Linked DNA regions of Homo sapiens: regions 2 and 3 are each linked to region 1. The links come from fine-mapping of genetic effects on gene expression. A gene starts in region 1. Each other region holds a variant in brackets. All regions are shown on one strand. Distances are between the middles of the regions.

Region 1 (6,678 bases):
GGCCAGCCATTTTTAAAAAAAGACATGGGGGTCTCGCTATGTTGCCCAGGCTGGCCTCAAATTGGGCTCAAGCTATCCTCCCACCTCAGTCTCCTGAGTAGCTGACACTACAGGTGTGTGCCACTAGACACATCTTTTGTCACCCATTTTGAGTGCTGTTGACTACTGCCTCCTGCTTAGAGTGCTTTTGTCCCTGGACTCTGTGACCCCCACCTCCCCAAACTCCTAGTTTTTTCTTTTTTTTTTTTTTTTTGAGACAGAGTCTCACTCTGTCGCCCAGGCTGGAGTGCATGGTGTGAACTCGGCTCACTTTAACCTCCACCTCCTGGGTTCAAGCGATTCTCTTGTCTCAACCTCCCAAGTAGCTGGGATTACAGGCGCCTGCCACCACGCCCAGCTAATTTTTAGTAAATATGGGGTTTCACCATGTTGTCCAGGCTGGTCTCAAACTCCTGACCTCAGGTGATCCACCTGCCTCGGCCTCCCAAAGTGCTGGGATTACAGGCGTGAGCCACTGCACCTGGCCAAGCTCCTGGTTTTCCTCCTGCCTCTCTGGCTGCTCTTCCACCTCCTCTGCCAGAGGTTTGCCTCTGTCTGGCCCTTAGATAAGAGTTCCTCAAGGCTCAGTGGTAGGTCCTCTTCTGATCTAATTGTACACTCTCATAGGAGCCCACAAGCCTCTGGTGACTTCATTACCACTGCCACACCAGCTATTCCAGCCCCAGCCTCTCCTCAGAGCCCCAGACCCTGCAGCCAACCACCTGTTCAACATCTCCACCCGGACATCTCACAGGCACCTCAAACCTACTTTGACCAAATTTGAACCTTGAGAGGGTTCTCCAACTCAGAAAATGGCACCACCATCCATCTGGTTAAAGAAGCAGAGATCTGGGAGTTTTCCTTGATTCATCCCCCCTAAGCAATTACCAAGTCTCGTTGGTGTCTACCTCTCTACATTTGCTCTACTGCTTAAACAAATGGCCCCTCTCACATTATAGCAACAGCCTCCTAACTGTCCCTCCATTCCATTCTTCCCCTTTCCCTATTCCTTCTTCACACTGCAGTCAGAGTGATCTACTTCAAAATGCAAAATTGAGTGTATGACTCTTGTTTCAAATGTCTCAGGATAAAGTCCAAACTCTGTAATGTGGTGTACTGGCCCTGCGTGATCTAACCCCTGCCTGCCTCTCTAACTTCCTCCTCAACCACTTCTTCCTTTATAGTCTGAACCAGCCAGGAACTCCTCATGGACTCCCCAGATGATCTCACCACCTTGCACTCCCTGTGGCCCATATCACAATTGTAATTAATTAATAGTGCATTTAATTGTTAAGCCCCTCTCTCCAGCTAGACTGTGAGCTCCAAGCAGGGAGTGTGTTTGCCATGTTCACCACTCCAGCGCCTAGTCCTGTGCTGCATCTAGAGGATGGCCAGTACATTTTTGTTGAATAAGTGAATAACACATCTCTGCCTACTGATGATGGACCTGGGTCCCAACCTAACAGTAGGGACTATAGCCAAGCGATGTGGAATCTAGCATTGAGTTACTCCCCAAAAGACACAAGGTAACTATTGTAGATATACTCCCAACTGTGTTAAAGCCACCATGGAGAAAATGCCCTTATTTATTTGAGACGGAGTCTTGCTCTGTCGCCCAGGCTGGAGTGCAGTGGCACGATCTCGGCTCAGTGCAACCTCCACCTCCCGAGTTCAAGCAATTCTCCTGCCTCAGCCTGCCAAGTAGCTGGGACTACAGGTGTCCACCACCACACCTGGCTAATTTTTTTGTATTTTTTGTAGAGACGGGGTTTTACCATGTTGGCCAGGGTGGTCTTGAACTCCTGACCTCAAGTGATCCGCCCACCTTGGCCTCCCAAGGTACTGGGATTACAGGCATGAGCCACCGTGCCTGGCCTAAGAATACCCTTATTTTTAAATTTCATGGCCTGGGCAGCCTTGGGCAGCGAGGGACACAAGCTTAATTTCCTAGTTGGTTGCCAGCTGACATTGTAGCAGCTCCTTTACTATAAACTCCTTGGCTGGCCGTTCTTGCAAGCATGTCTGTGGCTACAGGGAGTGCATTTAAAGGGAAGACACATATGCATGGAAACAATATACCAATCTGATGGCACAGAAAATCTTCCTTAGATGTCCGCTTTGTCTCAACACTGCATTTAAATATCAGACAGCAGCCTAGAGATATCTTTATTTAAACCCAGGAACATGGACTCAATATTATTTTGATACAGAATGAAGACATAGACTTCATTTATTAATTTATACTCCCTAGAGTTCTTTTTTTTTTTTTGAGACAGAGTCTCACTCTGTCACCCAGGCTGGAGTACAGTGGCACGATTTCGGCTTACTGCAACCTCCGCCTCCCTGAGTTCGGCGATTGTCCTGCCTCAGCCTCCCAAGTGGCTGGGATTACAGGTACATGTCACCATTAATTTTTGTATTTTTAGTAGAAACAGGGTTTCACCATGTTGGCCAGACAGGTCTCGAACTCCTGACCTTGTGATCCACCCGCCTCGGCCTCCCAAAGTGCTGGGATTACAGGCGTGAGCCACCGCGCCCGGCCTCTACTTCCTAGAGTTCTTAGAGAATTTCTAGCTTCTGTTTCTTTAAACATGTTTTATTAGCTTTCTAAATTATGAAAGTAAATACAACTGGAAAAATACAAAATCCAAAGTCAAGGGAGTAAAAAAATGTAACTCCCTTGTTTCCCCTCCCCGCGTAACCGTGGTTAACAGTCGGTGTGCACCCTTACAGATGTTTTTTCTATGAAAATACAAACATTCGACTTGTTTCTTGGACTTTACCTCGCAGTCCGAGGAGAATCATGTGAACAGCATGAAAGCAGCATGGTCCGAAGACTGCAAACCATAACATTTCCATATCTACTGACTCTGAATTCCTGTTTCTAGAGGACCCGCACCCACGTGGCTCTGTGCATCCGCAGCAACTTGGTCTTTCTTCCTTTGCTGAGTTTGGTTAAGGGAAAGGGCCGATTATTGAGTGGGCTCAGTTCACAGGTGCCTGAAATTCCTACTTAGCAATGTTCCTTTCCAGCTGATTCCGCCTCCGAGAGCCTTAGGAAAAAATGCTAACAGTTAGGAGCGAAGCGTCCTTAATTGCTCAGTCCAATTATCTAGATGGGTCCAGGTTCGGTTTCGATTCAGAGATAAGGACCAGGGGGCGGGGACGCTTCCAGGTGAGCCCCTGGTTAGGCTTGCCTCCCCGCGGAGCGCACGCGGGTCTCGCTGGCTGGACTGGGCCTTTCAAGACCAGGTAACTTCTCCATCCGGTATCGCCAGGCTTACCTGGGGGCCTCAGAATTGTGTCAGCTGCGTCTCTGAGTCACCTTGGAACCCCTCGAAGGAGCGCGGGGCTAGGAGGGCGCATCGGTGGGCCCGGGGACCCCGCTGCTAGGTGTGGTTGGCGCCAAGGCCGCCTCTGGCCGGCGGAGCCCTGCAGTGTCCGGAGGGTGCGGTCAGAGTCCGGCCCTTTAGGCCTTGCCTCGGTATCCGCCTTGCCCCTTGGGCCGCGGCACGGGTTCGGGCCGAGCGCCCGGCATCTTGCGTTTCTGGCTTCCTGAGACGGGCGTGGGACCTCGAGGAAACCACTCTGCATGACCCCACGAAGAGAACTAAGGACCACCCCCCACCCTTCCTGTCCTGGACGGCTTCATAAGCCAGAGGATCCAGTGGCAGTACCAAGCAGGGCACCACTCTGGGTCGTGAGCACCTAAGAGGTGGAGCAAAGGTCAGACCCCAGGGTGGCCCAGGCCTCCCTCCCCCGCCTCCCCGGCGGGGCCATTCCTCACCCGCCCCAGCACTGGAGGGGGCGGCCGGGGTCGGTCTAGTTCCGGTTACAAACTGGACAGAAAAGGCCACTGGAGTCTCGCTAGGCGATGCGCCTAGTCCCCTAGCCTCAGACGAACCGCAAGAGGGGCCACCCACAACTGGAGGGGCGGAGGCTGGAGCTGAGTTTCATTAGTGTTTTTGGAGCTGCCAGGCATTTCCAGGGGGGTCGCCTTCCTAGAGGCCCCCTTTCCCCAGCTTAACCCTCGGCTTTGCAGGAGGGTGCGTGGGGGCTGGAGGGTCCCTGGAAGCCGCAGGGAGCGCGGGCCCGGGTGGGTCCTGGTACCGGGTGGGGAGAGCGGAACCCTCCCAAAACTTGGGGCGCGGGGCGGGGCCGTCGGGCGGTGACGTGAGGGGCGGGGCCGGGCCCCATTGGCGGGCGGGCAGGGGAGGGGCGGGGCCGGGCGCCCGCGGCGGCTGCTGCGCCTGGAACCGGAGCCTGGAGTGAGGCGCAGCGGCAGCGGCAGCAGCGGCAACAAGTGCCGGAGGCTAGCAGAGCCAAGCCGGAGCAGTCCCTGCCGCCGACACCGCCGGGCCGCCCGTCCGGGGCGCCGCGCATGGAGCGTGAGCTGCGGCGGTCGCCGGGCTGAGCCGCGCGGAGCGGCCGGGACGTGGATGTGGCCGCGATCTCCCGCCCTTGCCCCCGCCCCGCCGAGCTGGAGCTGCTCCCGGACAAGGTAGGGCCCGGGCGCCGAGCACCCCCGCCGGCTCCCTCCCCGCTGCCCTCTCACCGCCAGGCCCCTCTACCAGTCCCCTTCCGCCTCCCTGCTTCCCGGCCCCACCTTCCGGACACCCTGCTACCCCCGCCCGGTTCCTCGCCGGTTCCGGCTTCGTACCCGCGCCCCGGTGGAGGAAGCCGTCCCTAGGTGGCTCCTGCCGCATTTAAGCCTCCCTTACCTTCCCGCCGTCCCAGCCACCCAACCTCAGCCCAGAGGGAGAGGAGAGGGACACCGCCCGCTGCGGGGCTTTGGAACCTCCCAACCCATTCCGTGCCCACCTCGCCCTGGAGCCCGGGGACCTTCCCCCTCCTCGCTGCACCCCAACTTCCGGGGGATCCGGCGCCGGGGCGATGCGGGCTTTGGCAAGGGGCATCTGGGGCCGGGCCTCCTCATCCGGGGCGCGCGGGCATTTCGGGGAGGGGGGCGCGCGTGATTCCTCGCTCGCACCCCCGCACCCCACCCTCGCACTGCGCCGGCCTCCCGTGCCGCATGGGGAGATCAGGTGTTTTGTGAGCCAAAGAGCCGCCGGCAGCCGCTCCCCACCCCCCACCCCCAACCTCTGCCACTTCTGTCTCCGGCTCCCCCAAAACTGGTTTCTGCCAAACTTAGGGAAAACCTTTCGCTTTGACCTTTTAAAAAAAATATTCCACACTGTTTGCGTTGAATGATTAACCAGGCTGCTAGCCCGAGTCGTGGGGGTGGGGTGGGGCGGGGTGGGGTGGGTGCTGCCAGGCCAGGGAGCGCCTGAAGCCGGACTCTACGAGACACCCCTCGTGGGAAGGTGGGCGTGGGGGGCCCTGCCGGGGCTGCGGGCGCGGGACTGGCGGCTACTCCAGCACGGCAGGCGGACCCTTCTGGAGGCAATAAACCGAGTCACCCGGTTAATTTCCAGGCCACGGTATTTGAAACTCGGGGCTGGGGAGCCGCAGAACTCCCTGTACCCCCATCAAGTAGAGGAGCCGTCGGGAGACTCCCCACAAGTGTCACAGCGTCAAAGCTCATCTTTAAAAATATGTACATTTATAACCTGGGTTGGCGAGGCGGCGCTCTTCTGCCCAAAACGTAGGGGTGGTTAGTTTGTAGAGTGGGCTTAGCTCACAGGTGCCTGAGCTGTATCCCCGTGGCCGCCTCAGCCACCCCAACTTCTCAGAAAGATTGTTTAGAACAATTAAACTATATTCTTTTGCCCTTCTCTTGTTGGAACCCTACCGTAATATCCGATAGCGAAGCCAGTTGGTGAATATAGAATTCTACTTGTTAAAACAAATTCTTCCGGTATAATTATTTGTGCCTCTGGAGGTGGTAAACGAGGTGGCCGACAGGGCCGGGACTGGGAGTGAAAAGGCGGGGACCCTGGCCGAGCCAGTCCCGGGGCTCCGGTGCCGGCTTATAGTCGCACCCATGCGGATCTGACAGCTGACCCGGAGGGAGGACCGGCAGGGCAGGGCAGGGCGGTCACTTCCCATTGTCCTAACTCCTGCTCCTGGTTCTTTTGAGTAGAGGGTGGTTAAGCCTGGAGGAATTTGGGAGAGTTTTACTCGGAGCCCATGCGCTCTTAAACCAGATTAGATTTTAAGAACACAGAAGTGAAGGAGCCCCATAGGGCTGTACTTGAGTAATTTGAGTAATCCTTTTCCTCCCTGCTCAGACTTTACAAATGTGTTTATCATTAGATCTTCTGTTTGAAACTACTTTTTTAGTTCGGAATATTGCTTTTTCTCCCTACAGCAAGGGTTCACTGTTTCTCATTTAGTTTTTGTGCAGGCGGCATTTGTATGATGAAGGCCTAATTCTCTGTGAAACTGACCAGTTCTCACCCTTGCCATTCATTAGACTTGATTCTGCCACATTTAATTCAGTGATCTTGGGCAAGTTATTCTTCACCTGAGCCTCATTTTACACATCTGGTTTTGGGGATGGTGGTGTTTGCTCTGCAAGATTATTTCTGAGGACAAATAGGATGTTTGCCAAACTCCTAGCACTGCACCAGGAGAGCTAAGAAGTGCTTAATAAATGGTGGTCATTGCTGTAATCAATAGAGAAGTTCCTCCTGGCATCGACTTCCCCTTACCAAAAACAGTAACCCTGTGGTAGCC
Region 2 (8,356 bases), 110 kb after region 1:
CACTGTAACCTCCACTTCCTGGGTTCAAGTGATTCTCTTGCCTCAGTCTCCTGAGTAGCTGGGCTTACAGGTGTACACCACGACGCCTGGCTAATTTTTTTGTATTATTTTTAGTAGAGACGGGGTTTTGCCTTGTTGGCCAGGCTGGTCTCGAACTCCTGACCTCAAGTGGTCCCCCTGCCTCTGCCTCCCAAAGTGCTGGGATTACAGGCATGAGCCACTGCGCCCAGCCCTGTATGATTTTTTTATGTGCAGCTCACATTCAAAATTACTGCTTGGCTTCTTTGGCGCAGAACCTCCCTTCTCCACCAGGGCCTCTCACTGGGTCTCAGTGGTAGACACTCTGGAGGATGCCTGCCTCACTCTTTGAAGTGAATTATTTTGGGTATCACCTTGATCCTAAATAAGGTCAGACAATCCCAATATGCTCTAAACATTTGTTCAAATCTTATTCAACTATTTTCATGTAGTATAATAAAATTTTATTAATATCTCTTGGTTTAATTCATGATCATTTTACATGTGGTGATATTGACTGAGTCCAAGCACTACCAACTCTGCCTTCGCTTTTTTTTTCAATTTTTAATTTTGAGGGTACATAGTAGGTATACATCCTTCATCATTGTGAAATTAAAATGTGTCTTTAGGCTGAGCACAGTGGCTCACACTTGTAATCCCAGCACTTTGAGAGGGTGAGGCGAGAGGATTGCTTGAGCCCAGGAGTTTGAGGCCAGCTTGGGCAATATAGAGAGACCTTGTCCCTACAAAAATATAAAAGTTAAAAATTAAAAAACAAATATGTCTCTTAGTGATTTTTTTCTTTTCTTAATTACATATTCACTGTAACAAAAAAGTTTGAAGTTACAGGTAGGCAAAAAGAAGAAAATTAAAACACCCCTAGTCCTATTCTCAGAGTTAGCTATTACTTACCACTTGATGTATTTCCCTCCAATCTTTTTCTGTATATGTACATGTGAATGTTTGTGTATAAAAAACTCACACACCTATAAAACATAAATAAGACATCCAGCTACCTCAATAACTGCATTATTCGTTTCTAATATGTATACTTTTTCACGTATTTGCCTATTTTTATTTCATAACCATCTGTTCTTATTTGTGATGGCTATTCTTTCATTTAGTTCCCTGAAGTTTTATGTATACATTTTAAAACCCCCTTCAAGATTGTCTATTATCTCTAGTTCCTTAAGTATAAATTTTCTTCTTTGGGGGGGTCTGAAAACTGCCTTTAGTGTTGTTGATCTTCCTTATAGGGTGTGTAATTCTTGCCTATGAGCTTGTCTTTCATGGGAGCCATCTTTCTTGGGACTTCTCCACTGTGTGGTCTGGGTTTTAGAAGAAGGATTCCGGTGAGGAGGTTTCAGTGTTGTCCTATGGAATAGAGCACTGACTTCAAACCAAGTCTATGGCTAGTGGACCAGGACTGTTGACTGTTTCCACTGATAGCTGGGCAGATGGCTTGTGTTCAGCCACAACCTTGGGCAGCCCTCTTCCTGAAGGGGTGGCATGGTCCTGCCTCCTGGACTCATGGCTTCCTGCTGCATGTGGGGCTCATGACGCATTGAAATTGCAACCACAGCTCATCCAGTCTGAGTCCCCTGTGGGTCTTCCGGCTTTAGCTCCCATTTACAGGCATGTTTTATTTTATTATACTTTGCTTTATTGCACTTTGCAGATATTGCATTTTTTACAAATTGAAGGTTTGTGGCAACCCTGCGTGGAGCAAGTCTATCAGTGCTATTTTTCCAACAGCACGTGCTCACTTCATTAGCATTTTTTAGCAATATTATCTTTTAATTAAGGTATGTACATTGTTTAGACATATGCTATTGCACACTTAATAAACCACAGTATAGGGTAAACATACTTTTATATGCACTGGGAAACCAAAAAATTTTTGTGACTTGCTTTATCATGATATTTACTGCGTGGTGGTCTGGAACTAAACTGGCACTATGCCTGAGGGATGCCTGTATGACTTTGTTCCTACTCTGTCCCTGGAGATTTCCCTTTCTTGCATGGAGCTTGGACATATCAATCTAAAATATATTTTTATATTTTATTAAGTTTTTCTATGCATTTGCAATAGGAGATGACAGCAGTAGGGGGAGTTCACCCTGTGCTCAACATGTTGACCTGAAATTCAATAGTAATTATCCTTACGTTGATTTGTGTTTGTCCTCCATACATCCAACATCTTCTTAACTACTTTAATTGCTTTGTCATTTTCTTCCATGTTCACTAGAATTATCTCAAGATTTTCCTGAGCTGGGAAAATTTCAAGCTTCCTTGATGTTTCTAATTTATCTAATAGCTCTATAAAGCTCTTGTTTTCATCCTGAATTTTTTTCCTTAGCTCTGAATTTCCTTTGCATTTCACTTGGTAGACTTATCAAGTCATCTTTGGGTTCTCGTTTTACTAAATTTCAAAAGCATATTAAATATTTTAAAATTAATTATATACCAAGTTAATACAAATTATTAATTGTTAAATTAATATAATTAACTATTAAATTAAAATGATTAATTAAGTATTATATATTCTTATTTGTTCTACAATGTGAAGCATTCTCAGGAGTTTTCTTCTGTACTTGGGAGAGAGATTTCTCCCAATCTAGATATCTGGATATGTTTATCTTTTTCATGTTGTGTTTCTTGCTTTTTTTGTTCGTTTTTGAGACAGAGTCTCACTCTGTCACCCAGGCTGGAGTTCAGGGGTGCAATTATGGCTCATTGCAGCCTCCACCTCCTGTGCTCAATTGATCCTCCTGCCTTATCCTCCAGAGTAGCTGGGACTACAGGCGTGCGCCACTACACCCTGGTCATTTTTTCTATTTTTCATAGAGACAGGGTCTCACTATGTTGCCCAGCCTGGTCTCGAACTACTGGGCTCAAGTGATCCTCCTGCCTTACCCTCCCAAAGTGCTGGGATTACAGGCATGAGCTGCCGCACTCAGCCTGTTTCTTGCTTATTTTCCTTCTCTTCTTTCTCCTACTCTGCCTTCTCCTTCTTGGTGTTCTTCTTTTTTAAAATCTAGTATGTTGGCTTAGCCTTCATGCTGTCTCTTTTAATTTTGCACAGGTAAGTCTGATCAGACTATCTAACGCTCTGAGAGTGTGAGGACGAATTCTTTTTGACACCTTTTCTAGCTACCTGTCATTTCCTCAATACTAGAGTTTGGGGACTGGGTGGTACTTCCTTCCTGCTTCCTGAGCTCTGAGGGTCACATGGACAGGTGAAGGACAGAGCTGGGCCTGGCTCCCTCCTGACGTGGGCTAGCATCCCACACCTGGGTCTGCTCCACTTGGCAGGCACATGTCCCCTCCTGGGACTTCAGCTCATTCCCTTGGACAGCACAGAGTTCTGAACAGCAGCAAGTCCAGCCAGCCACTCCTCCAGCCGCTGCTGGCTTCTGTGATGGTGCCCAGGGGCTCCTCCTCTCTGGAGCTTCTCCTGGACTCCCCAGGCTGCCTTTAGCATCTTGGCCCTCTTTGTGCCGAACTGAGAGGTGCTGGTGACCCTTCTTGGGATCCTGTTCTCTTACCTTCCCTCATTTGGCTTCAGCTATGTGTGTGGGAGAGAGACAGCTAACATTCCATTCTGAGACCCTCTATTTCTTCCCTCTTGACACCTTTTCAGTCTTATGTCATAAGGTTGTACTATTTTCCATGTGTGGTTGCCTCTGGTTAGCTTTTGACTTTTTTGTTTTTGTTTTGTTTTGAGATGGAGTTTCACTCTTGTCACCCGGGCTGGAATGCAATGGCACAATCTTGGCTCACTGCAACCTCTGCCTCCCAGGTTCAAGCAATTCTCCTGCCTCAGCCTCCCAAGTAGCTGGGACTACAGGCACCCGTCACCACGCCCGGCTAATTTTTGTATTTTTAGTAGAGCCTATTGTCCAGGCTGGCCTCAAACTCCTGACCTCAGGTGATCTGCCCGCCTCAGCCTCCCAAAGTGCTGGGATTACAGAGATGAGCGACTGCACCCTGCCAGCTTTTGACTTTTTTCAAAAAAATTATTCTTTGATCACCTTATGATGTGCCAGGGAGAAGGAGGGGTGCTTCTGGCCTCGCTTGTGCCACCCTTACCCAAAATCCAGGCACATGTGCTGTCGAGGCTCCACGCAAGACCCCAGGAACTCCTGGGTCTTTGCTACCGCCAGAGGGTTGCACCTGCTTCTCAGACAGAAGACCCCCGTCTCATGGTTTCTCTTTCTCAGGCCTCCAAACCCCTGGTTA[T/C]TTCATCTTTGAAATGAGTGTTTCATATGCAATTAACCTATGTTGAAACTTTACCAACTCTAAAGTGAAATTATACTTCCTTCCTACATCTAACTCTACCTAACCATAGAGTTCCCCTCCCGAGTATTTCTGAAAGTTTCCCAGGGACAGCTTTGCACAGCTCCAGAAAGTATCTCTCACTCTCACTCTACCCTTTTCTTCTTGCTGCCATGATTCTGCCTCTGTAGCTTATGGGACTGGCGACTTAGTGACTCTGCCAGGCCTTGGGAAGGAGACATTGCCCTCCCCAACCCCCCACAGCTCATCTGACCACAGGTTCCACTGAGTTGGGGCATAAAGAAAGCAGCCTTAGAAATTTCCATCTGCCTCCAGAGGAGAAGTGTCTTGTACCCAAAGGCCTCCATTTGGCAGGGGCCACTTTAGCTCCCACCAACAGCAATATACAGGCCCCCTTTCTCCACAGAGAGAGGAAGAAATCCCTCCCTTTCCAGCCCACAACACTCTTCCTTGCCTGCCTTGGGATGACAGACCATGAGGACACCCCTTTCTGTTAGGGGCAATCTCCCTCCTCCCTCCACACCTGAAGGTGTGGTCTGACCCTTTCCCCTCTGAGAAAATAAACCACCATCTTAGTGTCCAGTCTGAGTGTTTTGTTGTCAGAGCCTCAGGCCCGTCTAGGCAGCATTGTTCCCTCCCAGCGCATCGTTACAGCCTTTCCTCCAGCCTGAGGTGAGGAGAGGGTCAGGTCTTCCAACCTCTGGTAACCCCATCTCCCAGGAACAAATGTTGGACAACAAAGCACTCATGTCACCCAGGAGCCAAAGGGCAACCTCAACCAAGATTTTAAAAAATGGACACCTTAGAACATGTGTCTAATTTGTTTGGGGGCGGTTCTACCCATAAACACAATTAATGTTTCCTAACAGGACCCATAATGACTTTGCTCAGAATCACCCCACGTGGGCTTCCTCCAGAACAGCGGAGGCTTCTTGCCTCACAACAGGCGGCCTGCGAATGCTGCCCAACATGGTTAAAATGTGAGCACGCTGGCGGCTGACTCACAGGAAATGGTTCCCAAGGCTATGCCTGAGATAAGGCTGGCTTCTGGAGGCCTCTTTGCAGAGGAACCAATCCCACCCCAACTCCCTGATTGGATAATAAGACTCAGAAGCTCCAGTTCTCCCCTTCCTATGTGGCTTTGCAGGTTCTGTGTCTGACTGGACTGCCACTTTTCTCACGTACCTGTGGTCTGTGCTACAGAACATCCTAGCCACACAAGAAAGGTGGGAGCAGTGGGTGGCTTGAGGCCAACTGAGGTTTCAATCCAGTTCCTCTCCCCTGCCACCTGCCTTACCTGGTGCTACCTCTGCAAACACCACCTGCTGGGACAGTGTGGGTGGGAGGGGCTGGTGAGGAGGATTATTTCCTGTTACTGCCTTGGGGAAGCTGCTGAGGGCATTGCTCACGCCTTTGATCTGGGCATAGAAGGAAGCCACCTGCCCTAGCCAAGGTTTTAGTGCAATGACCAGATGAGAGGCTTCAGGTTACCTCGGGGCCCTGAGTCTGGAATCCAGAGTCACAGAGAATGAGGGAAAGTTGTGGAATCATTGGTGGAGACAGGATTGGAAACCTCTTGCAGCCAGAAAAATCACCATCACAGAGGGAGACTAGAAACCATCTCTGGGCCTGAACCTATCTTTGCTCCCGCCTTTCTTGTGCGGTCAGGTGGTTCTGGGACAGTAACCTCAGGCAGGTGAGAAAAGTGGCAGTGCAGTCAGACAATTCACAGAGGCCAGACGGGACAGGGAGAACTGGAGCTTCTGAGTCTTATTATCCAACCAGCCAGGCAGTGGGGGTGGGCTTCGCTCTTCTCTGCAGAGAGGCCTCCAGAAGCAACCTTATCTCAGGCACAGCTTATGAAGCTCTTTCCTGTGAGCCAGCCACCAGTGTGCTCAAATCTTAACAAACAGCATGACCTTTACTTAATAAAGGCCTGGGGGAAAGCCAGGGCAAGCGTTCCCACTTTAAAGTGCTTCATAAACGACGTGGCACCTGCAGTCACAAGGATGACATGATTAGCCTGCTGTCACCTGAGTCATTTTTTCCAGATGTGGTGAGGGGCAAGGCAGCCAGCTGGTGTCATGGAAAAAGCTCTGGATTCGAGTCTCGGTCAGATGTTGGCTACCCACTCAAACTGCTGCCGTGGCAGCCCTGCCTCCTTGCACGGCCGTTTCACATCTCTGATGTGGGAGATGAAGAGGGGTATGATCCATGCCTGGTATTTTGCAAACAGAATGCATGCATTCATAGATATGAGAGCACTGAAAAAACCCAAGCTCTTGATTCGGCAGCCAGACTGTGTAGGGGGATGTTCACTAGACTTGGTGTTTAAAGACTCAGGTAGGATCCAAGCTAATTCTATTTTTTTTTTTTTTTTTTTTTTTTTGAGACAGAGTCTCCCTCTGTCACCCAGGCTGGAGTGCAGTGGTGCGATTTCGGCTCACCGCAACCTCCACCTCCCGGGTTCAAGCAATTCTCCTTCCTCAGCCTCCCAAGTAGCTGGGATTACAGGCATAAGCCCCCAGCCTGGCTAGTTTTTTGTCTGTTTGGTTGGTTGTTTTTGTTTTTGTTTTTGTATTTTCAGTAGAGATGGCATTTCACCATGTTGTCCAGGCTGGTCTCGGACTCCTGACCTCAAGTGATCCGCCCACTTCAGCCTCCCAAAGTGCTGGGATTATAGGTGTGAGCCACCATGCCCAGATGGATCCAAACTAATTCTTAGTCATGTAAATCTAAGCAAGTGACTTAGTGTCTCCGGATCTCAGTTTTCTCCACTGTGGAATGGAATGGTTATAATCACCCTGCACCCGGCTCTCCTGAGAGGTAGATGAAATCAGATGGGGATGCATGGGAAGTGCTGTGGGGGCGGCGTACTCCGATGTTATTTGATGCTGTCTAAGGTTAAGCCTTCTTATTTGGGCTACTAGGGCAGAGCCCATCTGGGCCTCCCAAGTCCATTCTCTTTCAAGAGAAGAGAGCAGCTGCCAGTTGCCCTGGTAACCCAGACCAGCAGCAGGCTTCCTGCAGGGACTTTCCTGCCCTGGCACAGTTGTCAGTTTCCCTTCTCAACCTTAGCTGAGGCCGAAAGTGTGGTGGAGACACAGGTTTCTCAAGCAGGGCCCTCAGCAGAGCACACCGTGCCCACTGGCATTATTGCCACAACTTCTCCTTGCTTTGTGGAAGAGAATCTGGTTACACATCTTACTGGTTTTTCTGCTTTCTTTCTGTGACTCATCATGTTTGTGAATATTTCAGGTAAACACTTGGAGGGGGCAGCCTTCTTGGCTCAGTTTTCTGCTCTCTGTGTTCTCTGTGCCAGGCTGGTGACCCTCCTCTCTGTGTCCAGCCCCCTGTCCCCTGGAAATAGGTAAGGCATCTGAGATTGCTGGCTGCCTCGTCTGTCTTCAGCCAGGACCTGAGGGGTTTGTCTCTGTAGCAGTGGAGTTCATTCACTGCTATCCTTTGTGAAGAGTGGAAGCTGCCCATTTCTCCCCTGCCCTTCCTGACAGGAAACTAGCACTGGCTGAAATTTCTCCAGGGCTGACCTGCCTCTCGGTGTCCTGGTCCCATGTTCAATATAAAAGTCCTATGAATCGCCACAGTCTTCAGGAGTAACACTTCCTATTCCCAGAAAGTCAGGACCAGCCTGGGAGGACTTCGCACCTTCCTGGGATTTGCTCTTTTGACCATCCCCTATCTGTTTTCCTGTAATTATCTGCTGTGAAACTTACAAAACTAAAATGCCATGAGTGCTTATCTACGGGGCAACCAAAAAAGAGAAGGCCTTGAACCTGAGTCCCTCTGTACATGTGGGTTTCTATGAGGGGTGGGTAGGCACTGCCTGATGAGGGGGCAAGAAAGCCTAGAGCTGACAGGGCACCAGGGAGGGGCCGAGGAGCCTGCCTAGCAAGGAGACCTGTGGGCGAGTCCCTGATCTGTGCCAGCCAGGAAGTTGTAGAAGGCAGGGAGCAGTTGCCATGCTTATGTGATTCTTGTAGGAGTGGTCCCTGAGATTAGTTGGAAAGGCCCTTTATCA
Region 3 (8,356 bases), 220 kb after region 1:
GGGGAGCACTGCGTAAGGAAGCTTCAGGGCCCTGTGGAATTCTGACCTGGGAGAGGGTGGATCCCCTAGGGGTGTGCAGGCCTGCGAGGGGCACCTGAAAGCAAGAGGGCATTTGGATCAGGTTAACATCTGACCTCTCAGCAGGCCCTGCCCATTCAGACTGGGGAAGAGCTTTGAAGTTTCCTTTGTGTGATGTTTTCATGGCCCTGATCCTACTGTACTGGAATTAGCCCGAGGCCCTGCCCCTTCCCTGGAGATTTGTTCCCCAACTGCAAAAGTCTTAGAAAAATACCGCAAGCTCCACCCACCATCCCCACACCACTGAATGCTTTTTCCTTAGGCTAAAATACCAGGGAGGAAAAGGCCTCAGAACCCCCACCAGGAGACATTCTGTGCGTGTTTACAGTTTCTCAAGTGGAAAGCAAGGACCCCTGGAACCAGATCTGAGGGCAGGTGCTTCCCAGATAAGCATGTTATGGGGTGGGGAGGATGGAGTAAGGGAGGGAGAAGCAAGATTGTCCCTGGAGGCTTCCCAAGCCACGGGCCAGGTCCAGAACAGCAAGGCTGTGGGTTCTGGCCAGAGAGAAGAGGAAGCTGGTGAAGCCAGGCCTTCCGGCCGTGCTCAGTGAGCAAACCATTGTGCCTAGTGTGGCCAAATATCCATCTCGGGGATCTCTCTCTGAGCACCAATGGCTTCTCCTATACTATTGCTCAAGTCCACCATAAAAGCAGTGTTTAAAAACGAAGGGAGAGGAAGACAAAAGAGAGGAAAGCGGAGAGAGAAACGGGAGGAGACGGAGAGAAGCAAGGAATCCCAAACTAGACTGCTAGATTCTGCTAGATTCGGCTTTTCAGAGTAAAGACTCTGAGCAATAGTGCCATCTTGTGGCTATGAGTAGGAATTACAATTAGTTTTCTCTCTCTCTCTCTCTCTCTCTCTCTCTCTCTCTCTCTCTCTCTCTCTCTCTCAATCTCTCTCCCCCCCTCCCTCCCTCCCTCTCTCTCTCTCTCTCTCTCTCTTTCTCTCCCCCTCCCTCCCTCCCTCTCTCTCTCTCTCTCTCTCTCTCTCTGTCGTCTACTCATGGTGTTTGCAACTGCAGGGGCACAAGCCATGGATTTTGTTTCCACCCGAGACAATTGCCTCTCCCCCGACACCTACACCCCAAACTACTCCAGACTCTGCACCCTCTTCTACACACCTCTGGGGTGAGTCCACATTTGCCCAGTAGAAATACCTGCTATCTGATGTTTGACTCAACTCTAAGACTCATTCAACAAATATTTATTGTGCTTTTATTATGTGCCAGGCACTGTCCTAAGATCTGCGGACCTGACTATAAATAAAAATGTCTCCTTTCATGCACTTTACATTTTAACTAGGGAGGCAAATATTAAACACATACATGTAAAATATAATGGGATGTAGTAACAAGTGCAATAAAGGAAAATAAGGCAGGGGATTCAGGGCTATTTCAGATAGGGTAATTGATGAGCTACAACTTTTTTTTTTTTTTTCAGAGATAAGGTCTTGGTGTGTTGCCCAGGCTGGTCTTGAACCCCTAGCCTTAAGCAGTCCTCCTGCCTCAGCCTTCCAAAGTGCTGGGATTACAGGTGTGAGCCACTGTGCCTGGTGCAGTCGCAACTTTTATCAGCACAGATATCTGCTAATATCTGTGCAAAGGCATAGATGAGGTGAGGGAGTAGGGCAGGTGAGTATCTGAGGGAAAAAGGACCTACAAACACAAAGACCAAAGCCGTCTGTCTGGATCTTCCCTGAGATGTGACTCCAGAGTAGCAGCCAAAGAATATGACACTCAGGAAGTCATCTAGGGTTCGAGGTGCTAAAGCCAACTTTTTTCTTTTTCCTTTTTTGAGACAAGGTCTTTCTCTGTTACCCAGGCTGGAATGCAGTGGCGCAAACACGGCTCACTGCAGCCTTGATCTCATGGACTCAATTGATCCTCCCACCTCAGCCTCCCTAGTAGCTGGGACTACAGGTGGGTGACCCCATGCCCGACTAATTTTTGTATTTTTTGTAGAGATGATTTTGCCATGTTGCCCAGCCTGGTCTTGAACTCCTGGACTCAAGTGATTCACCCGCCTTGGCCTCCCAAAGTGCTGGGATTGCAGGTGTGAGCCACCATACCCAGCCTAGAGCCAACATTTCTCTTTTTTTCTATGCTTAGCATCCAAAGCTATCTTTATCAAAATCCACCTGCTAAAGCCCCCGCTAGGACAGCATGTGGGGAGGCTCTAGGCCATTCTGGATTCAGGACCTTCTGGCTCCATTCTGAATACAAAAGCTGACTTTTGACGTGAGAAATCTGACACACTCTTCACTCTCTGAGCCCAGGATTTTCTTTGCCAAAGAGCTGGGCTTCTTTCTGTAGCCAGTGGTGATCCCACAAGCTTGCCTTTGCTTATATCAAAGACTCCAGATCTCCAGTTGAATGTCTCCACCAAGACATCAGAGTTGAAATTAAAAAGAGCATTTCTTTCAGAGAATAAGCCCAAGCTTTGGAGATCTGGTTTGTACCCAGTCCCTGTTCCAGGCCAGCCTGCTCTGTCCCTTGCTCATTTAATTTTCTAGGTTAACAAACAGAGCAAAGTTTCCAGGTGTGCTTGCAGAATATCACCTGGAACATTATTTGGAGGAGAGAGGCAGGGTGCTGAGCTTTTTCTGAAGCTTTTTCTGAAGGCTTATATTCTGTAGGTCAGGGAGCCAGTTACTTACAAGTAAAACTGTCCCCAACAAGATTGCTCTATCAGGGCCCATTTGGGGTTGGCTTTTCTAGCATATGAGTCTAGCATATGAATCAGGCCAGGTGTGGTGGCTCACACCGGTAATCCTAGTGCTTAGGGAGGCTAAAGGGAGCCGGTTGCTTGAGACCAGGGGTTTGAGATCAGCCTGGTCAACATAGTGAGACTCCATTGCTACAAAAAATTAAAAAATTACCCAGGCATGGTGGCACGTGCCTGTAGTCCTAGCTAATTGGGAGGCTGAGGCAGGAGGATTGCTTGAGCCCAGTAGTTCGAGGTTGCAGTGAGCCGTGATTGTGCCACTGTACTCCAGCCTGGGTGACAGAATGAGACCCTGTCTCTAAAAAAAATATAAAAATTAAAAAAAAAGTATGAATCAAGTATAGCCTGAGTGGACTCTGGGTGGACAAGGGGACTGGTTTCATCTGGTTACTTGACTCAGAAAGTCAAAAATAGGCTGGGCATGGTGGCTCACGCCTGTAATCCCAGCACTTTGGGAAGTCAGGGTGGATGGATCACTTGAGGTCAGGAGTTCAAGGCCAGCCTGGCCAACATGGTGAAACCCCATCTCTACTAGAAATACAAAAATTAGCTGGGTGTGGTGGCACGCCCCTGTAATCCCAGCTACTCAGGAGGCTGATGTGGGAGAATTGCTTGAACCTGGGAGGCAGAGGTTGCAGTGAGCCTAGATCGTGCCATTGCACTACAGCTTGGGTGACAGATTGAGACCCTGTCTCAAAAAAAAAAAAAAAAAAAAAGTCAAAGATACCTGAGGTCTTTTCTTCAGTGTCTGCATTCTCAATGTTCATTTCATACCCGAGAAGCAAAGCCAGGCAAGGCAGCCTGGTAAATGGGCCCGGATCTTTTCCCAGAGAGCACTTTGTAACCTTGATAACAAGACTCAAATGACCTCCACCAAAATCAAAAACAAAACTAACAAAAGCCCATTTGAATGTTAGAAAACATCTTCACAATGAATCTAGTCTTTCTGTTTTTGTGGTTTCGGCAGCTGCTTTATTTGGGTG[T/C]GTTCTTGACAGTCATGGTTTCAGAGGGTTCTTCTATCCAAGAGGAAGTCAGTCCTCTGAAGACCAAGTTTGCGTACTGGACAATTTGAGCTGACAGCAGCTGCCAACTCATGCTCGGCTCTTCACGGTGGACTGTCTCTTGTGCAGGTCAGCTTGTCCTGGCAGATGCTATCCATGGCAGTGCTTCCCTGCCTGGGCCTGGGGAGAGGCCCTCCTGGGAGATTCCTCTTCTGGCTGAGCCTGTACCTGGGCCTGTGTGCAGGTAAGGAAGGCAGGTCATTGCTGCCTTGAAACTAATCCAGTGGATGTACCTGGATCAGAAGACAAAATGAACTCACCAAATGTCAAATCATTGTTAACCAGGGCAAAGACTTACTTGTCCTCTCCCTGCCATGAGAAACAGCTCTGCCAACCACTGTCACATCTCCAGTGAGGGCTCTCATGGTATTTGCAGTGTGTGTGGTTGTTGTTTTTTGGAAGATGGGATCTAGAGAGTAAGAGGGTGTAGGGGTATAGGACTGGCAGCATTGGCAAGGGCTTAGAGCAAGGACATTTGGTAGCTGCCCGTGGGAGTGTAAACATTTCAGGAGGCCAATCTGGCAATGTGTGTCACGCCCAGAACAGTCCTGGCTTATTGTTATTTATTAATTACTATGGATTTTTAATATTATCTTTTTTCACTCTCAAAGAATCCTGCTTTGTAGAATAAATGATATAATCACCCAACCTTTGGTGTGCCTTTAGGGAATGTATCCTAAGAATATGTACAAAGATGTAGATTTAGGGATGTTTACCACAGGGGTACCAGGCTTAAAGAAAAGCTAGAGATAAGTTATGTGGTTAATAACAGAGAATTAACTAAATTAGTTAAATAAATTATAGTACATTCCACACAGTAGAATGCTAGATAGCCATTAAAATGAAATGTGGAAAAATATATAGTTCCATGGGAATATATGCATATTATTAAGGAAAATTACTAAACATTTTTTATATATAACACTATTATATATAGTGTTTAGTAATATATATAGTGTTTAGTAATTTAATATTAAATACTATATATATTTAGTAATTCACTATATATAGTAATTTAACATTAATGATTATATATTATCATGCAAACCTAGTTTACAAAGAAAAAAACATATGCACTGAACAAAAGACTTGAAGAATATACACTAAGCCATCATCAGTGGTTATCTCCAGGAAGTGGAATTAGAAGTGTCATGTACTTTCTTTTATGCCTTTTCTGTATTCCTACATTTTCTACAAGGAATGTGTATGTTGTAGGCAGAATAATAACATCAAAGATGTCCACCTCGTAATCCTCAGAACCTGTGAATATGCTAGCTTACATGGCAAAAGGGAACTACGTCTACAGATAGAATGAAGGTTGCTGATCAGCTGCCTTTGAGAAGGGGAGTGTATCCTGGATCATCCAGGGGAGTCCAGTGCAATGTCAAAGGTCCTTAAAACAGGGAAGAGGGGCCTGGCATGGTGGCTCACGCCTATAATCCCAGTACTTTGGGAGGCCGAGGCGGGCAGATCACGAGGTCAGGAGATTGAGACAATCCTGGCTAACACGATGAGACCCCGTCTCTACTAAAAATACAAAAAAAAAAAAAAATTAGCTGGATGTGTTGGTGGGCGATTGTGGTCCCAGCTACTCAGGAGGATAAGGCAGGAGAATGGCGTGAATCCGGGAGGTGGAGCTTGCAGTGAGCTGAGATCGCGCCACTGCACTCCAGCCTGGGTGACAGAGCAAGACTTTGTCTCAAAATAAATACATAAATAAATAAAATGGGGAAGAGGGAGGCAGAAGAGTGAATGTCAGAGTGATGTGATATGATGTGAGGAAGGCTTGACCAGCCATGGCTGGCTTTGAAGAAGGGGCCATGAGCCAAGGCATGTGGAAGCCTCTAGGAGGTGCAAAAGGTGAATGGATTCCAAAAGGAATACAGTCCTGTTGCACCTTGATTTTAGCCCAGAGAGACCCATTTTGGACTTCTGACCTCCAGAACTATGAGATAATAAATCTGTGCTGTTTTAAGCCACTAAGTGTATGATAATTTGTTATAGCAGCAATAGGAAACTAACACAAGAAATTTCCTTTTTAGTCAGAAAAAAAAGATAATAAGAAAAGTCATTTTTAAAGAGAGGATTGGGCTGGGCTCGGTGGCTCATGTCTGTAATCCCAGCACTTCGGGAGGCCAAGGCAGATGGATCACTTGAGGTCAGAAGTTTGAGGCCAGTCTGGGCAACACAGCAAGGCCCTGTCTCTACAAAAAAATGAAAAAATTAGCCAGCCATGGTGGAGTGCACCTGTAGTCTCAGCTACTTGGGAAGCTGAGGCAGGAGGATTGCCTGAGCCCAGGAGTTTGAGGCTACAGTGAGCTGTAATGGCACCACTGCACTCCAACCTGTGTGATAGAGCAGCATCTTGTCTCAAAATAATAATAATAATAATAATAATAAAATAGAGGATTAGAAATCATTCTTTGTAATCTAACCCAACAGCCATCCAGGGAGGAGGCCTATAATCTGCATGAGGAGCTTCTAGAACTAGCTGGCTGTTGTTTTGTTATTAGCAGAAAACAATAATATTGTCAATAAGTAAATAATCAAGAACCCCAAGCAGATTTAACCCAAAGAAGACTACCTTAAGGCATTTAATAATCAAACTCCCAAAAGTCAAGGATAAAAAAAAGACTCTAAAAGCAGCAAGAGAAAAGAAACAAATAACATGCAATGGAGCCCAAATATATCTGGCAGCAGGCTTTTCAGTAGAAAACTTTACAGGCCAAGAAAGAGTGGCATGACATATTAAAAATACTGAAGGAAACAAAACTACCCTGGAATAGTATATCCGGTGAAATATCCTTCAAACATGAAGAAGAAATAAAGACTTTCCCAGACAAACAAAAGCTGAAGGATTTAATCAACTCCAGACCTATCCTACCAGAAATGCTAAAGGGAGATTTCAATTGGAAAGAAAAGGACATTAATGAGCAATAAGAAATTATCTGAAGGTACAAAGCTCACTGCCAATAGTAAATACACAGAAAAACACAGAATATGATAACACTGTAACTGTAGTTTGTAAACTACTTTTATCCTAAGTAGAAAGAATAAACGATGAACCAGTCAAAAATAATAACTACAACAACCTTTCAAGACATAGTCAGTAAAATAAGATAAAAATAGGCCAGGTGCAGTGGCACACACATGTAACCCCAGCACTTTGGGAAGCTGAGGCGGGTGGATCACTTGAGGTCAGGAGTTCAAGACCAGCCTGGCCAACATGGTGAAATCCTGTCTCTAGTAAAAATACAAAAATTAGCTGGGTGTGGTGGTGCATTCCTGTAATCCCAGCTACTCAGGAGGCAAGGCAGGAGAATTGCTTTAAGATCATGCCACTGTACTCCAGCCTAGGTGATAGAGCGAGACTCTGTCTCAAAAAAAAAAAAAAAAAAAAAGATATATAAATAGAAACAACAAAAATTTAAAAAGCTGGGGGATGAAGTTAAGCCATAGAGATTTTATTAGTTTTCTTTTTGCTTGTTTGTTTATGCAGAGTGTTAAGTTGTTATCAGGTTAAAATAATGTGTTATGGCCAGGCGCGGTGGCTCACGCCTGTAATCCCAGCACTTTGGGAGGCCAAGGCAGGCAGATCACGAGGTCAGGAGATGGAGACCATCTTGGCTAACACAGTGAAACTCCGTCTCTACTAAATATACAAAAAATTAGCTGGGCGTGGTGGCAGGAGCCCATAGTCCCAGCTACTCAGGAGGCTGAACCAGGAGAATGGCATGAACCCAGGAGGCGGAGCTTGCAGTGAGCCGAGATCATGCCACTGCACTCCATCCTGGGGGACAGAGCGAGACTCCGTCTCAAAAAAAAATGTGCTATAAGATAGCATTTGCAAGCCTCATGGTAACCTCATACAATTAATACACAAAAAATAAAAAGCAAGAAACTAAATCATATCACCAGAGGAAACCATTTTCACTAAAGGGAAACAGGAAGGAGACAAAAAAGACCAGAAAATAAATAACAAAGTGGCAGGAATAAGTCCTTACTTATCAATAATAACATTGAATGTAAATGGACTAAATTCTCCAATCAAAAGACATAGAATGACTGGCTGAATGGATGAAAAAATAAGACCTATTGATCTGTTGCCTACAAGAAACACACTTCACCTATAAAGACACATATACACTGAAAATAAAGGGATGGAAAAAGATATTCCATGCCAACAGAAACCAAAAAAGAGCAGGAGTAGCTATGCTTATATCAGACAAAATATATTTTGAAACAAAAACCTATAAGAAGAGACAAAGATCGCTATATAATGATAAAGGGGTCAATTCAGCAAAAGGATATAACAATGTTAAATATATATGTACCCAACACTGGAATACCCAGATATATAAAGCAAATATTAATTAGAGATAAGGAGAGAGATAGGCCCCAGTGCAATAACAGCTGGAGACTTCAACACCGCACCTTCGGCATTGGACAGATCTTCCAGACAGAAAATCAACAAAGAAACATCAGATTAATCT

The links. PIP is the estimated chance that this variant, and not a neighbour inherited with it, causes the effect.
Region 2: its variant is fine-mapped to the expression of B3GNT2 in whole blood (TOPMed, PIP above 0.99). The same link has a PIP of 0.9 or more in neutrophils.
Region 3: its variant is fine-mapped to the expression of B3GNT2 in whole blood (TOPMed, PIP 0.96).

Annotation. Positions count from the first base shown.
Region 1 is chr2:62,191,816-62,198,493 of GRCh38, forward strand. B3GNT2 (UDP-GlcNAc:betaGal beta-1,3-N-acetylglucosaminyltransferase 2) reads left to right here and starts at 4,300. Exons shown (of 2, transcript NM_006577.6): 1 at 4,300-4,540. It overlaps LOC124906013 (a long non-coding RNA gene), which reads right to left and starts at 4,198. Exons shown (of 2, transcript XR_007086336.1): 1 at 3,324-4,198; 2 at 2,174-3,092. RefSeq lists enhancers at 2,785-3,392, 3,999-4,605, 5,586-5,695 and silencers at 3,686-3,915, 4,206-4,645, 4,826-5,175.
Region 2 is chr2:62,299,585-62,307,940 of GRCh38, forward strand. No RefSeq gene overlaps it. Among named protein-coding and RNA genes, the nearest start is that of MIR5192, 98 kb to the left of the region's middle. RefSeq lists enhancers at 3,469-3,548, 3,619-3,688, 5,700-6,227, 6,228-6,753, 6,319-6,388 and 2 more. The variant T/C (reference allele first, on the strand shown) is at 4,261.
Region 3 is chr2:62,411,383-62,419,738 of GRCh38, forward strand. It overlaps LOC105374764 (a long non-coding RNA gene), which reads left to right and starts at 3,811. Exons shown (of 6, transcript XR_002959390.2): 1 at 3,811-4,047. RefSeq lists enhancers at 1-351, 623-812, 3,973-4,042. The variant T/C (reference allele first, on the strand shown) is at 3,786.